Linked DNA regions of Homo sapiens. The protein of the gene in region 1 purifies or fractionates together with the protein of each later gene. This does not show direct contact. Each region holds a gene or a part of one and is shown in the gene's direction. Other genes may lie near its edges.

The links. The genes of interacting proteins can lie anywhere in the genome.
Region 2: the proteins of DYNLRB2 (region 1) and DYNLT2B purify together in Homo sapiens (affinity purification with mass spectrometry; one large-scale study listed by BioGRID and IntAct). This does not show direct contact.
Region 3: the proteins of DYNLRB2 (region 1) and GTF2H2C purify together in Homo sapiens (affinity purification with mass spectrometry; one large-scale study listed by BioGRID and IntAct). This does not show direct contact.

The regions. Positions count from the first base shown.
Region 1 is NC_000016.10:80,538,925-80,544,879, forward strand, and holds the start of DYNLRB2 (dynein light chain roadblock-type 2), read left to right. Parts: upstream 1-2,068; 5' UTR 2,069-2,152; coding exon 2,153-2,155; exon of another isoform or gene 2,156-2,378; coding exon of another isoform or gene 2,379-2,381; intron 2,382-4,351; coding exon 4,352-4,427; intron 4,428-5,955. UniProt on the Homo sapiens protein: Acts as one of several non-catalytic accessory components of the cytoplasmic dynein 1 complex that are thought to be involved in linking dynein to cargos and to adapter proteins that regulate dynein function.
Region 2 is NC_000003.12:196,307,178-196,311,790, reverse strand, and holds part of DYNLT2B (dynein light chain Tctex-type protein 2B), read left to right. Parts: intron 1-4,613. UniProt on the Homo sapiens protein: Acts as one of several non-catalytic accessory components of the cytoplasmic dynein 2 complex (dynein-2 complex), a motor protein complex that drives the movement of cargos along microtubules within cilia and flagella in concert with the intraflagellar transport (IFT) system.
Region 3 is NC_000005.10:69,591,141-69,594,518, forward strand, and holds part of GTF2H2C (general transcription factor IIH subunit 2-like protein), read left to right. Parts: intron 1-938; coding exon 939-1,058; coding exon of another isoform or gene 1,059-1,071; 3' UTR 1,072-3,378. UniProt on the Homo sapiens protein: Component of the core-TFIIH basal transcription factor involved in nucleotide excision repair (NER) of DNA and, when complexed to CAK, in RNA transcription by RNA polymerase II.

The DNA.
Region 1 (5,955 bases):
AATAATTAGAAGTGAAAAATTGATAAAGGGGAAATGGCTCAAGTTCTCCTCATTGATTTTCTGTGCACAGAGTCAAACTTGACTGTTGGTTGGAAGTCAGTTTGGCTACTTCTTATTTCTTTTTCAGCAGTTGGGTTCTCCCGTCAGTGCGTTTTATGCTAGAATCGTTCTTTGCTCTAATTACAGCTGTCAGCTATTGAATGAGCTTGACATCCTGACTCCAGAAACAAGGAAATTCACACTCCATGCATATGCAGTTGGTTCCTTCATTAAAGCTGATTGACATATCAGACATGGTGCACTGTCACTGATTTTTGTAAGAAAAACAAACGGCTACACAATCAAGTGGAATCTCCTTGATCAGAAACACCCAGAGAACCCAAGAATCACTCTTCATTCAACTCAGCCAGTATTTCTGTAAAGACCTATTATTTGTATTACTGCAAAATGGTAGCTATAGTCAATCAGGTAAGAGCCAGATCTGTACACACATGCATGCATACACACACAAGCACACAAATGCACACGCACACGCACACACCAGACTCAGACTCCTTCCCCACAGCTATAGCAGTCCTTTCCAAAGCAACTTTGTTGGAGTACCAGGTGTTGAGAGTCAAGCGGGATTCTTTGGCTAGTAATAGTGAACTGGCTGAGATATACAGATTTCTTGGAGGGAAAAAAAGGAGAGAACTACAGTGATCAGAATCACCCACACCTCAACAAAAATTAGAGCAGAACTACAGTTTCTCAGAGTATTTCTGTAGTTAATATAATAAAATGACAGATGTGGAGTTGAAATGGATCATCGAGTCCAAGCCTGCCAATGAGTTCAAAACTGTCCCAGAGCACCCCTAACATGGACCATTCAGAATCCAGTTGACATTCCTAGCACGATGTATGCCTTGTTCAGTGTGAGACTACTTTCTGGAAATGGATGCACAAACAGAATCGGTATTACAGGAAGTTGTTATGGCATGATCCCTATGAAGATGCATTCCCAACTTACAGCTTGTATTTTGTAATCAATATTTGTCCTCCTCTAACCTCAGGAAGTCATAACACGACTCCAGCCATAAAATTTTCCTGCTGTGCTTCGTCGTACAATAGTGGCTCTTTTCCTCCTAGGCTATAAGGATATTATCAATGTCCCTCAAAAGGTCAAGTGACTTCTGATCATTCCTAACTGATCTTTAACGTGTTTCCTCCAACAGTTCCTTAAACACCCAATGGAATGCTCTTCTATGGCAACGTATAGAACCTCCGGAACTACCATTTGCAATTTTTTAGTAACTCAGAACTGTTGATTTTTAAAATGGCAAAAATACAGATCCTAATGGATACTGACAACTAACAGAAATACTGACAAGTAGCAACTCTTCAATGGAGTTGAGAACAGGAAGAGGGTGCTATAACTAGGTGAGAACATAAAATGTGCAACTGTGCTTACTCTACTGATCTTAGAGTAGACAGATAGAAAGTAATTTTTTTAAGTACATAAGGTTGTACTATTTGATGCTCTGATATATTTTTCTTCAATATAAAAACTACTGGGAGGCGAGCGAACAGTATCTGCCCTGAACAGGGCAGTACTAATGGACGGTCACAGGCAGCTAAGACTATCACCAAACCCCTAGAGCAGCCCAACCCCGAAGTCAGATGGTCCTGTCCCCTCCTTACTTGCTCCAGGGCAAGTATCACACGTGGACATTACTGCTTCCGGTACTGTTTCGTGCATTTTGTTTGGTGCATTTTGTCCGTCTCCCTGGCACCTGGTGGGTGGTGAATCAGCAGTTTTTGAACGAATAAGTGGTTATCACATTAATTCGTGCCTCAATGAATGAATGAATGGACAAACACAGGCCGGGAGCCTGACCCACTTCCCTCTTCCCTCCCGGGACCCACTGCTCCAGGATTGGGCGAACCTCAGGTGAGCGCCTGCTCCCCTCTTCCGCGAACCTTCGCCTACGGCGGCCGGGAGGCATCAGGAGCGCGGTCAGGGCGAAAAAGCCGACTCGCGAGCGCGCAGGCGCAGCCCTGACGCTTCCGTGGGGCCACTTCCTTTTTTGTCTCCTAGCAACGGCGGGTAGCGTTGTTGACATCCCGGGAGGCTGTGCCGCCGGCCTGAGCCCAGAGTTTCGCGGCCTCCGCGATGGTAAATCTGGGGTCTCCGTCCACGCCCCGCCGTTCCAAGCACGCCGACCGTCAAGGACCTTCGCACCCAGCTTCTGGGGCCCACCCAGGCACGGGCGGTCCAGGGGCCGCGGCGGAGGCTGGTGGCTCCAGGATCTTCCTGGAGGGGCGAGAGGGAGACCTTGGAAAGGGGCAAGAAGATGTCTAGATGACTGGAAGCTGTTTTGGGAATTGATTTCGCGGGGATGGTACATAAGGAGGGGTGATGTTGAGAAAGGGAAGAGAGAGATTCAGAGGATGAAGAATGCTCAGGGGAGTGAGAAATCCGGGGAGCCAGGAAAGTTTCCAAAGAGGGGGCGGGAGGCCGAGATGGAGAGGAAAAAAAATCAGACCCTTAGAGAGAAGGAAGAGGTGGGACAGGGAAAGCAAGGGAATGGAAGGGTGAGAAGGGAAGATACTGAGAAAGAAGAAAGGGAAATAAAGAAAAAGGAAAGAAGTGATGGGAGACCCGCCCCCCTCCCCCCCAGAAAAAGAGGTAAGAAAAAAAAAAGTAGAGACTGTGGAAAGCAAAGGGCGTTAAGAGAAGAATGAAACGGGGATTGGAGATGGGGATTAAGAAATTATACTAGGAGCACTTACAAATCATGAGAAGAGAAACAACTGGGTGGAGAAATGGAAAGGCCAGGGAAAGAAAAGAAAGGAGTTTGGGAGATAAGTAAAGGGAGAAAGATAAATAAGGACACAGTGGCTGTAAGAAGCTGTGGACATCGTCTTAAAGATTGCCCAAAATGCAGTGAATTATTGATCCCCTGTTCAACGCTTACGGTTTAGTGTAGTGTTTCTCAAAGTCAGATGCAAACATTCGTTGCTACATAAGATGGCCGAGAAATGCTAAATAAGAGTGAATCACATCGTGAGAAAGTTATTCCTCTTCCATTTTGTTCAACCTTCAGACTACATACAGGAGAAAATTTCTGTTGCTATTAGGTCCTTAATACCACTGTCATTTGGAAATTTCCATTTTTTCATCCGAAGAGCAGGCCTCAGGCTCAGAGCTTTCATTGCAGTAGAATTTAATGATAGGCTCTCTCTTCATTTTGTTCATTTTGTTTGTTTTACAGTTATTTCTATTTATGAGGAATAACGTCAGGTTTCCATTTGTGGTAGTGACATACGATTTCCTCTTAAAATGCATTTATTTAAGCTTTTAGCAGTGAGATAATTTAAAGAACACCTAGATAAATAGTATACATGGCATTCATAATGGCAAGAATCATGAATCTAGTACACAAATGCCTAAAGTCAAGAAAACCTTGGCTCTGATGCTGAAATAGAGAAAATAAGTGCTCCTGCCCATACCAAGTACAAAGGAAAACTATCTTGAAGTAACAAAATGTTCACCTGTGCAATACTGAGGAAAAAAGAATATAGCAAACCCTCATCAAGAGAATTTGCAGAATTCAAAATATCCAGTGATTGCTCAGTCATGAAAAATTTGCAGGTTTGGAAAAGATCGTTCTTGTCTTTGAGTTTTCTACAGGGGAAGAAAACATACAATACACTCTACACATAAGATTCCGAATGAGTTTAAAACACAATAATAGATTCCAGAATAATCACTCATAGTTGAACATTCAGCTTGCACTGAGACGCAAGCTATAGTTATCAAGAAAATCCTAGAATCCTGGAATACTTTGTTTTTATAGACTATCCTTTAAATTTAATCATCCGAACTGATTAGGTCACATTAATGAAAATAAGATTTCTCAATAAGGACTACTTTTAGACAGAGGGAGGCCATGATATAGCTCTATAAATATTTAAAGCACTGTAATGTAGAAAAGGAATTTTCATTTGAATACAGCAGGGTCAATGAATGAAAGATAATCTGGGACAAATTTCCATGCAATGTAAAGAATACTTTTCTAGTAAATGGAAACAGATAAAAATGGAGTGAACTCCTGTGAGGCAGTAAGCTCTCTGTCTCTACAAGGGTTCAAGCCAAGAGATTCATCAGGATTGTATCCAGGAGGTCTTACGTAGGTATTTATGTGGGACTTGACAATTTCTAAGCTGTCTTTTAAAAATCTGAGATTATCACACCTGGCACCTTAGGTTAAGGAGATAGGAGAGTAGGTATCTTGCTAAACATTATTCTCCTTAGGGTTGAAGTTACCACAGGGCCCTTTTGGTTAATTATCTTCCTGGTCTCTTTCAGGCAGAGGTGGAGGAAACCTTAAAGAGGATCCAGAGTCATAAAGGGGTTATTGGAACTATGGTTGTAAATGCAGAAGGTAAATATATCACAGGCTGTCTTCTTGACACACAGAAGCCAACCAGGAACCTGTTTGCCGTGTTAGTCCTTAAGACAAACATCTTCGAATTTGACATCAAAAATATATTTATATATTTTAGCTCTGGCATTCACTTACCAAACATCTATTGAGTATCTGTTATATGCCAAACACTCTGCTAAGATCTGGGGGCATAAATATGAATAAGACATGTCTAAAAATCTCTATATACTCCTAAGAAGCACTATACATTGTTTACTTTTTAAAGCTTTGGTAATTCTCTTCCAACATTTCAGAAGTGCCAATAAAACTATCATATAGAAGATAGGGAGAATATCATTGTTGGTGGGTTGTTTGCGTTTCAACATTATGAACCATACAGAATTTCAGTGTTTATTTTAAATGGAACTTGTTCCTTGAACATATTTTATTTAAAAATCTTTGAGAATTAACGATATCATTTATAATATAGTCTTTGTGGATATAGCATAAGAAGGCCCTACATATTTCCAACTATGAAATCTGTAGACTTACCAGAAACTTGCTCTTGCTGCACGATCCTTGTTAAGAATCCACATCACATTTACTTTGGCACATTGCTCCACGCTCAGCTATGGTGGCAACCTCTTAAGAGTTCATGCTAGTTTCATTGCTAATTCAGACATTTGTAAGGGCAAGGAGTGCCAGAAATTCCAGAGCATTAGTTAAAATAAGAGTAGCTACTTTACATAATTTGTGGTGCAACCATGGAATTGGCCTATTACCAACTCAGTGCCTTGGAAAAATCCATCAGTAAATATTTATTAAGCAACTACCAACTGAAAGTCTGCTTAAATTCTGAACTACAACTCCTTACCACTAAGAATGGACAATAACCTATTTTACTGGGGGTTTTCATTGTTAAATGAGACAATAATTGTTGAGTGCTTGGCATAATACCCAATACTTGATAGTAATTAAATAGTTATGAGAATGTGAGGATTTTTAATTCATTTATACAGTTAAAACATTTGTTTTATAACCAGCAACTCAAGGCCAAATGAGTGAGAGAGATAATAGAACATAATAAATTTTCGAGCTTGAATAATCAGGGGGAAGAGAGGATTTAAGATCTGCCTTCCAGGTAAGTCACAAACTATGCGTAATATTTCCAGGAAGCATTCCAGCCCTAGTACGTGGATCTGGTTGCATTGATTTTATTTCCAGGTATTTGCATACACTCTGCCACAGCTCCGAAGATGAGCCGTCCATGTGATTTCATAGAGATGGTGTGTTAGTTTCCTTTGGCTACAGTAACAAACTACAACATGCCTGTTAACTTAAAACAACAGAAACGTATTCTCTTCCAGTTCTGGAGGTTAGAAGTTGAAATCAAGATGTCCGAAGGCTCATGCTGTCTCTGAAGACTCTGTGGGAGGACCATTCCTTACCTCTTCCTAGCTTCTGGTAGTTGTCAATCTTTAGTGTTCCTTGGCCTATAGACACATCACTCCGATCTCTGCCGCCATCATCACGTAGCATTCTCATC
Region 2 (4,613 bases), on another chromosome or scaffold:
TGCTTGAACCTGGGGGGTGAAGGAGGTTGCAGTGAGCTGGGATCGTGCCAGTGCACTCCAGCCTGGGCAACAGAGCGAGACTCTGTCTCAAAATAAATAAATAAATAAATAAATAAATAAATAAATAAAATAATCCTCATCTTCACCTTTATGCTCAGTAGCTTTTCTAAAGATTCTGACTTTCTAATGAGCATTTTATAGCTTTCAATCTGCAGACTTTATTCTTTCCATATAAAGGAAATTTCCTTATATCTCTGAATATGTTTCCTATTCCATTCGTTACTTCCTTTTCTTCAGGACACCAAATATTGTTATGTTGAGCCATCTTTGTCTTCTATATTTATTAGTTTTTCTTTCCCATAATTTCTTTCTTCTTCTTTTTTTTTTTTTGAGACAGGGTCTCACTCTGTTGGCCAGGCTGGAATGCAGTGGCGCAGTCTTGGCTCACTGCAGCCTCAAGCAATCCTCCCATCTCCGCCTCCCAAGTAGCTGGGACTACAGGCGCCTGCCACCACACCCGGCTAATTTTTGTATTTTTTGTAGAGACGGGGTTTTGCCATTTTGCCCAGGCTTCTTCCTTTTTTATTGCCATTTACTTGTGATTTTCTTAAACCAGTAATTGTTTTCATTTGTGTCTTTTTTCTTGCCATTTTGAATTTATTAGTTCTGGAATGATCTTTTCTGGGTATTCTGTTTGTTCCCTAGGGCCGTGGTCTTTCTTTTCATCTCTTTATGTTGCTTAATAACCTGATTGAGGCTGGGTGCCGTGGCTCACACCTGTAATCCCAGCACTTTGGGAGGCCGAGGCGGGTGGATTGCCTGAGCTCAGGAGTTCATGACCACCCTGGGCAACATGGTGAAACCTCGTCTCTACTGAAATACAAAGAATTAGCCAGGCGTGGTGGTGCACGCCTATGGTTCCAGCTACTTGGGAGGCTGAGGCAGGAGAATCACTTGAACCCAGAAGGCGGAGGTTGCAGTGAGCCGAGATCGCCCCACTGCATTCCAGCCTGGGTGACAGAGGGAGACCCTATCTCCAAAAAAACAAAAACAAAACAAAACAGGCCAGGTGAGGTGGCTCACGCCTGTAATCCCAGAACTTTGGGAGGCAGAAGCAGGTGGATCACTTGAGGTCAGGAGTTCCAGACCAGCCTGGGCAACATGGTGAAACCGTGTCTCTACTAAAATATAAAATTTAGCCAGGTATGGTGGTGCGTGCCTGTAATCCCAGCTACTCAGAAGGCTCAGGTGGGAGAATCGCTTGAACCCAGGAGGTGGAGGTTGCAGTGAGTTGAGATCATCCCACTGCACTCCAGCCTGAGCGACAGAGCGAGATTCCCTCTCAAAAAACCAAACCAAATCAAACAAAATCATAACCTGGCCAGGTGCGGTGGCTCACGCCTGTAATCCCAGCACTTTGGGAGGCCGAGGTAGGTGGATCACCTGAGGTCAGGAGTTCGAGACCAGCCTGACCAAGATGGTGAAATCCCGTCTCTACTAAAAATGCAAAAAAAAAAAAAAATTAGCCGAGCGTGATGGCGCATGCCTATAATCCCAACTACTTGGGAGGCTGAAGCATGAGAATTGCTTGAATCTGGGAGGTGGAGGTTGCAGTGAGCCTAGATCTTGCCATTGCACTCCACCCTGGGCAGAAGAGCGAAACTCTGTCTCCAAAAAAAAAGTTAAAAAATTTGATAACCTGATTGAGTACTTATTTCATTGAGTTTATAAGCTTACATTGTTCTAGTATTGTGAATTAATTGTGAGGAATAACTCTTCGTTCCTTGATTTGTATTACTTCCTAGGTTGATTTTTTTCTTTCTTTTCTTTTCTTTTTTTTTTTGGACTGAGTTTCGGTCTTGTTGCACAAGCTGGAGTGCAATGGCGCAATCTTGGCTCACCTTAACCTCCACCTCCCAGGTTCAAGCGATTCTCCTGCTCAGCCTCCCAAGTAGCTGGGATTACAGGCGTGCACCACCACGCCCTGCTAATGTATTTTTAGTAGAGATGGGATTTCTCCATGTTGTTCAGGCTGGTCTCAAACTCCTCACCTCAAGTGATCCACCCGCCTCAGCCTCCCAAAGTGGGATTACAGGTGTGGGCCACCGTGCCCAGCCAAATTTTTTCTCTTACACAGCTCCTTCCTTCCTTCTTTCCTTCCTTCTTCCTTCCTTCCACTGGAAGTTTCTTTCTTTTCTTCAATATTTTTTGAAAAATTGTTTTGTGGACCAGGTGTGGTGGCTCACGTCCGTAATCCCAGCACTTTGGGAGGCCGAGGCAGATGGATCACCTGAGGTCAGGAGTTCGAGAACAACCTGACCAACATGGAGAAACCCCATCTCTACTAAAAATACAAAAGTAGCCAAGTGTGGTGGTTCATGCCTGTAATCCCAGCTACTCGGGAGTCTGAGGCAGGAAGATTGCTTGAACCCAGGAGGCAGAGTTTGTGGTGACCTGAGATCACGCCATTGCACTTCAGCCTGGGCAACAAGAGTGAAACTCCATCTCAAAAAAAAGAAAAAAAGAAAAATTGTTTTGTGGAGATGGTGGTCTTGTCATGCTGCCTAGGCTGGTCTTGAACTTCTGGCCTTAAGAGATCCTCCCGCCTCAGCCTCCAAAATTGCTGGGATTACAGGCGTGAGCCATGGCACCCAGCAGAAGCTTTGTTCTTCTTTGTTACTCTTTTGTTTTTGCTATTGCATCTTTGTTTATTGCCATTTGGCTGCATTTCATTTTGTTGTGCCCATACATCATAATTGCTCTGATATAATGTGGGGGATTTTTAATTGCTCTGATATGATGTGGGGGATTTTTAATTGCTCTGATATGATGTGGGGGATTTTTAATTGCTCTGATATGGTGTGGGTTTTTTTTTTAAGTTCCCCTCCCCACCATATCTGAGACTATTTTATTTTCCCCTCAGAACCGTGATTTAAGGGCTGAGTATTATTCTAGACACATTTCTGTATAATTTGGGATTGGTTAGAGAAAGGAGGAAGCTCAGCTGAGTTGTGTGCAGTGTTTTTTAAAAATAACTTGGACTCTGTCTTTACACACTCTGAATCAGGTTCATGCCCCACATGGGAGATTGCCTGTAGTCTTCAGATTGTCCCGTTTACAGTGTAATCTTGGAACCTGCACGTTCATCAGAGAGAGCTGGCTCTTTCAGCTTCGCTTATTTCACTTCTTTTGTTTTTTTAAAACTCTTTCCACTATTCCTTGGTCAAAAAAGTAGAAAGATTCAAAAATGCCCATTCCATTTTTTTCTCTTCAGACTTGGTGTTAGTGAGAATTTTCAGGATTTTGCTGCTTTAGCAACGTAGTTTCTGGAGTAAACAGCTAAATGGTGCTGGATCACCTCGTTTTGCTCTGGAATCTTCATTTTTTTTCTTGTCTGTCTTACTGAACAGCTTACAGTTTCTTGGAGATCCCATGCTCTCCTGCTGTGCACATGCCCCTCGTTCTCGGACGTGTGGGGAGATGGGGCTGACCTGGTCCCCTCTTACTCAGCCCTCAAGACTCAGTTTATTGGCCGGCCACATCTTCCAAGAAGTCTTTTCCAGTGATTTCTTGCCACTGCCCAGACAAACAGAGGAACTGCCCCCACTGGCTCTGTGTTCCTGATGTACATCATACATGCCACTCCTTGAATTATAAGCATACTCAATTTATAATTTATTTTTCTATTTTCTTTTTTTTTTTTTTTTTCGAGATGGAGTTTTGCTCTTGTTACCCAGGCTAGTGTGCAATGGTGCGATCTCAGCTCACTGCAACCTCCGCCTCCCAGGTTCAAGCAATTCTCCTGCCTCAGCCTCCCGAGTAGCTGGGGTTACAGGGATCTGCCACCATGCCTGGCTAATTTTTATATTTTTTAGTAGAGACGGGGCTTAACCATGTTGGCCAGGCTTGTCTCAAACTCCTGACCTCAGGTGATCCACTGGCCTCACCTTCTGAGAGTGCTGGGATTACAGGCGTGAGCCACCGTGCCCGGCCTATTTTTCTATTTTCCTTTGAGTTCTTTATTACTGTGAGTTCTTTAAGGCAAGAAAAACGTCTTATTTATTTCTCTATCTTGAAGGTTCAGCTCACTAGCTGACTTATAGTAGGGGAAAAAGGAAGGAAGCTAAGGTTTATTGAAGGACTAGTATTTAACAGCACTGTTTAGATGCTTTAGATATTACTATATCTGACCGGGCGCGGTGGCTCACGCCTGTAATCCCAGCACTTTGGGAGGCCAAGGTGAGTGGATCACCTGAGGTCAGGAGTTCGAGACCAGCCTGGGCAACATGGTGAAACACCTTTTCTACTAAAAATACAAAAATTAGCCAGGTGTGGTGATGCATACCTGTAGTCCCAGCTACTGAGGAGGCTGAGGTAGGAGAATCACTTGAACCCTGGAGGCAGAGGTTGCCGGTGAGCTGAGATCGTGCCACTGTACTCCAGCCTGGGCAACAGAGTGAGAATCCATCTCAAAAACAAAACAAAAAAAAGATACTACTATATCTTACCTAACCTTATAACAATCTTGGGAGGTAGGTACTGATATTCCTGTTTAATAAGGGAGACTTAAACTGAAAAGTTAAATTACTTTCTGAGGTTATACACTTGCTGAG
Region 3 (3,378 bases), on another chromosome or scaffold:
CCCAGGTTGTAGTGCAGTGATGCAATCTTGGCTCACTGCAACCTCTGCCTCCCAAGTTCAAGTGATTCTCATGCCTAGCCTCCCAAGCAGCTGGGATTATAGGCGTGCACCACCATGCCCAGCCAATTTTTGTATTTTTAGTAGAGACTGGGTTTCACCATGTTGACCAGCTGGTCCTGAACTCCTGGGCTCAAGCAATCCACCCGCCTTGGCCTCCCAAAGTGCTGGGATTACAGGCGTGAGTCACTACACCCGGCCTCATTTGAGTTTTTAAGAATAGGTCATTGTCTGTGTTGTTTGAAATTTATTTATTCATTCTTTTTTTTTTTTTTTATTCAAAGCCAAATACTTCTGAGATTTAGTGATTTTTGAATCTGTGTATGAAGCTGCCCTGGAAATTTTATCCCAAGGAGCAAGTACTCATATATGTAATGCTGAAAGAACAAATGTAGTTTTTTCCTTTCTGCTTGTCTTATCTGTGTCATTTGACATATTTTTTTAAAGGTTTACTTGAAAGGGAAATATGTTTGCAATTGTGAGGTCATTCCCTAAGAATAATTAAATCGATGTTAAATTTTTATGCTTCTCTTTTTAATTGAATCAATCAGGTGGTCTTGCTAAGCATTCAAAAGTAGCGCTGGTTTGAAGCTCATATGTCTTTCCTAAACCTTAGAATGAAATAATTGAGAGCGAACTGTAATAGAATAGACTTTAAAGACTCAAAAACAAAACCATTCCCTCATTTCTAAGGGATAGTTTTGGGGAAAAAATTAATTGCCTTAGATTTGAGAATATAGAGTACATTGGAAGTAATAAAGTAGGTAGTGGGAAAAAATTGGTAGAGATATAAAAGAGCAAAGCACACCTTGAATGTCATCTAGCTGTGCTGTAATTAACTTTTGGAAACTAGTTTATCACTTTTCTTCTTTTCACTACAGGTTTATGTTTGTGCTGTGTGCCAAAATGTTTTCTGTGTGGACTGTGATGTTTTTGTTCATGATTCTCTACACTGTTGCCCTGGCTGTATTCATAAGATTCCAGCTCCTTCAGGTGTTTGATTCCAGCATGTAGTATACATTGTATGTGTTAAAAAGAAATTTGCAACTGTGAATAAAAGGACTTCTTTAGAAGAAGCTTCATTTAAAACATGAAAGGATAATCTGACTTAAGAAACTTTTTGCTAAGAAAAGGTAATATTTTATTAAATTTTAAATTTGTGTTGTCACAGAAATACCTGAAATTCAGTAGTACTTCATTCAATTAATTTTGTTTTCTATTATTTTGAGTTATACTGTTTTCAAAGTCATTATGCAGTATGTATAAACTTATAAGAATTAAATTGATGTGATAATTTTATGTTTTTATAATTAAATATAGAATCTTTATGATTTATGTTAATTCATTAATTTAGTGTAAGAAGAAAGTTAAGTCTGAATGTAAATTCAGTGTAAGATGAAAATTTATCAATACTTATGAAATTAGGCTGGGCGCTGTGGCTCACACCTGTAATCCCAACACTTTGGGAGGCTGAGGTGGGCAGATCACTTGAGGTCAGGAGTTCGAGACCAGCCTGGCCAACATGGTGAAACCCCGTCACTACTAAAAATACAAAAAATAATTAGCCGGGCATGGTGGTTCACGCCTGGAGTCCCAGCTACTTGGGAGGCTGAGGCAGGAGAATCGCTTGAACCCAGGAGGCGGAGGTTGCAGTGAGCCGAGATTGTGCCACTGCACTCCACCCTAGAGTAAGACTCCCTCTCAAAAAAAAAAAAAGTTATGAAATTAATACATATGAAATGATGTACTGCTACATCCACCAGAGAGGTCTTTTTAGGTTTAACCAAACATCTGGAATATGTTTATCAAGTTAGTACATCTGAAATTATTTGTGGCTATGACCAACAGAAGTCACTTTACATTAAACATTCAAACTCACAAGACTGCCATGGCCATACTTGGTACCCGCTTACTCAGAAGGATATTAAACAGAAACAACAGCCTGCCAGCACAGCATCAAGCAGTCCTCATTAGCAGTGGAAGTCCTTGTAGCAGTCCACTAGTACAATTTGGGTGCAAGGAGATAAGATCCTCCACAGGCATCAAGGAACCAATATCTCTTAACAATTCCATAAACACAGCTTCCAGGTATCCACAAGGGATGTGTCAATTTCAAGAGTCACTACACTCAGGAAAGCCTAAAGCTTGAAGACTCCATTTATTTATAGTGCATCCCAATCCAGATACGTAACAATTAACGAGTTATTTTTACTATAAGCAAAGTTGCCTAAAATCATAGTTGATACTAACCATGGTTAACAGAGCTCTAAAGTTTGACAGAAAGTGAGATTCAAATCCTTTCACTCTCATATGCTAAACCTTTTGCCTTACTCTGGGTCATCAGAGAAATTTAGGTGAGAATGTATGATGAAGTCTGTGTTTTAGATTCAATGCAGATATATCATTGTGGGCAGAACTCTTTCTGGTTATATCCAGTTAAGAGTAAATCAGGCTTTCAGCCGGGCGCGGTGGCTCACGCCTGTAATCCTAGCACTTTGGGAGGCCGAGGCGGGCAGATCACGAGGTCAGGAGATCGAGACCATCCTGGCTAACACGGTGAAACCCCGTCTCTACTAAACATACAAAAAATTAGCTGGGCCTGGTGGCGGGCGCCTGTAGTCCCAGCTATTCGGAAGGCTGGGGCAGGAGAATGGTGTGAACCCAGGAGGCGGAGCTTGCAGTGAACCGAGATCGCTCCACTGCACTCCAGCCTGGGCGACAGAGCTAGACTCTGTCTCAAGAAAAAAAAAAAAAAAAAAAAAAAAAAGAGTAAATCAGGCTTTCATAGCAAAGGTATGTCTATTTTATGTATATAAACTTCAGGTACTCTAACTTGAGTTTCACTATGAAATTTGTGATTTTTTTTTTTTTTTTTTTGAGATGGAGTCTTGCTCCATCGCCCAGGCTGGAGTGCAGTGGCCTGCTGTTGGCTCACTGCAACCTCCGCCTCCCAGGCTCAAGCCATTCTCCTGTCTCAGCCTCCTGAGTAGCTGGGACTACAGGCGCCTGCCACCACGCCTGGCTAATTTTTGCATTTTTGGTAGAGACGGGGTTTCACCTTGTTGATCAGGCTGATCTCCAACTCCTGACCTCAGGTCATCCACCCACCTCCGCCACCGTGCCCGGCCGAAATTTGTGATTTTATAACTAAGAATTTTTAGTTAAGAACATTATCAGTAAAGACAACGTAATCCCACCCTGGAGAGTTTATTGGGAGCCCAGGAATATTCATTTTTAATACACACACACACACACACACACACACACACACACACACACACTGATCAGAGTAACGGGAGTTTCTCTCAGGAGTCATACTCC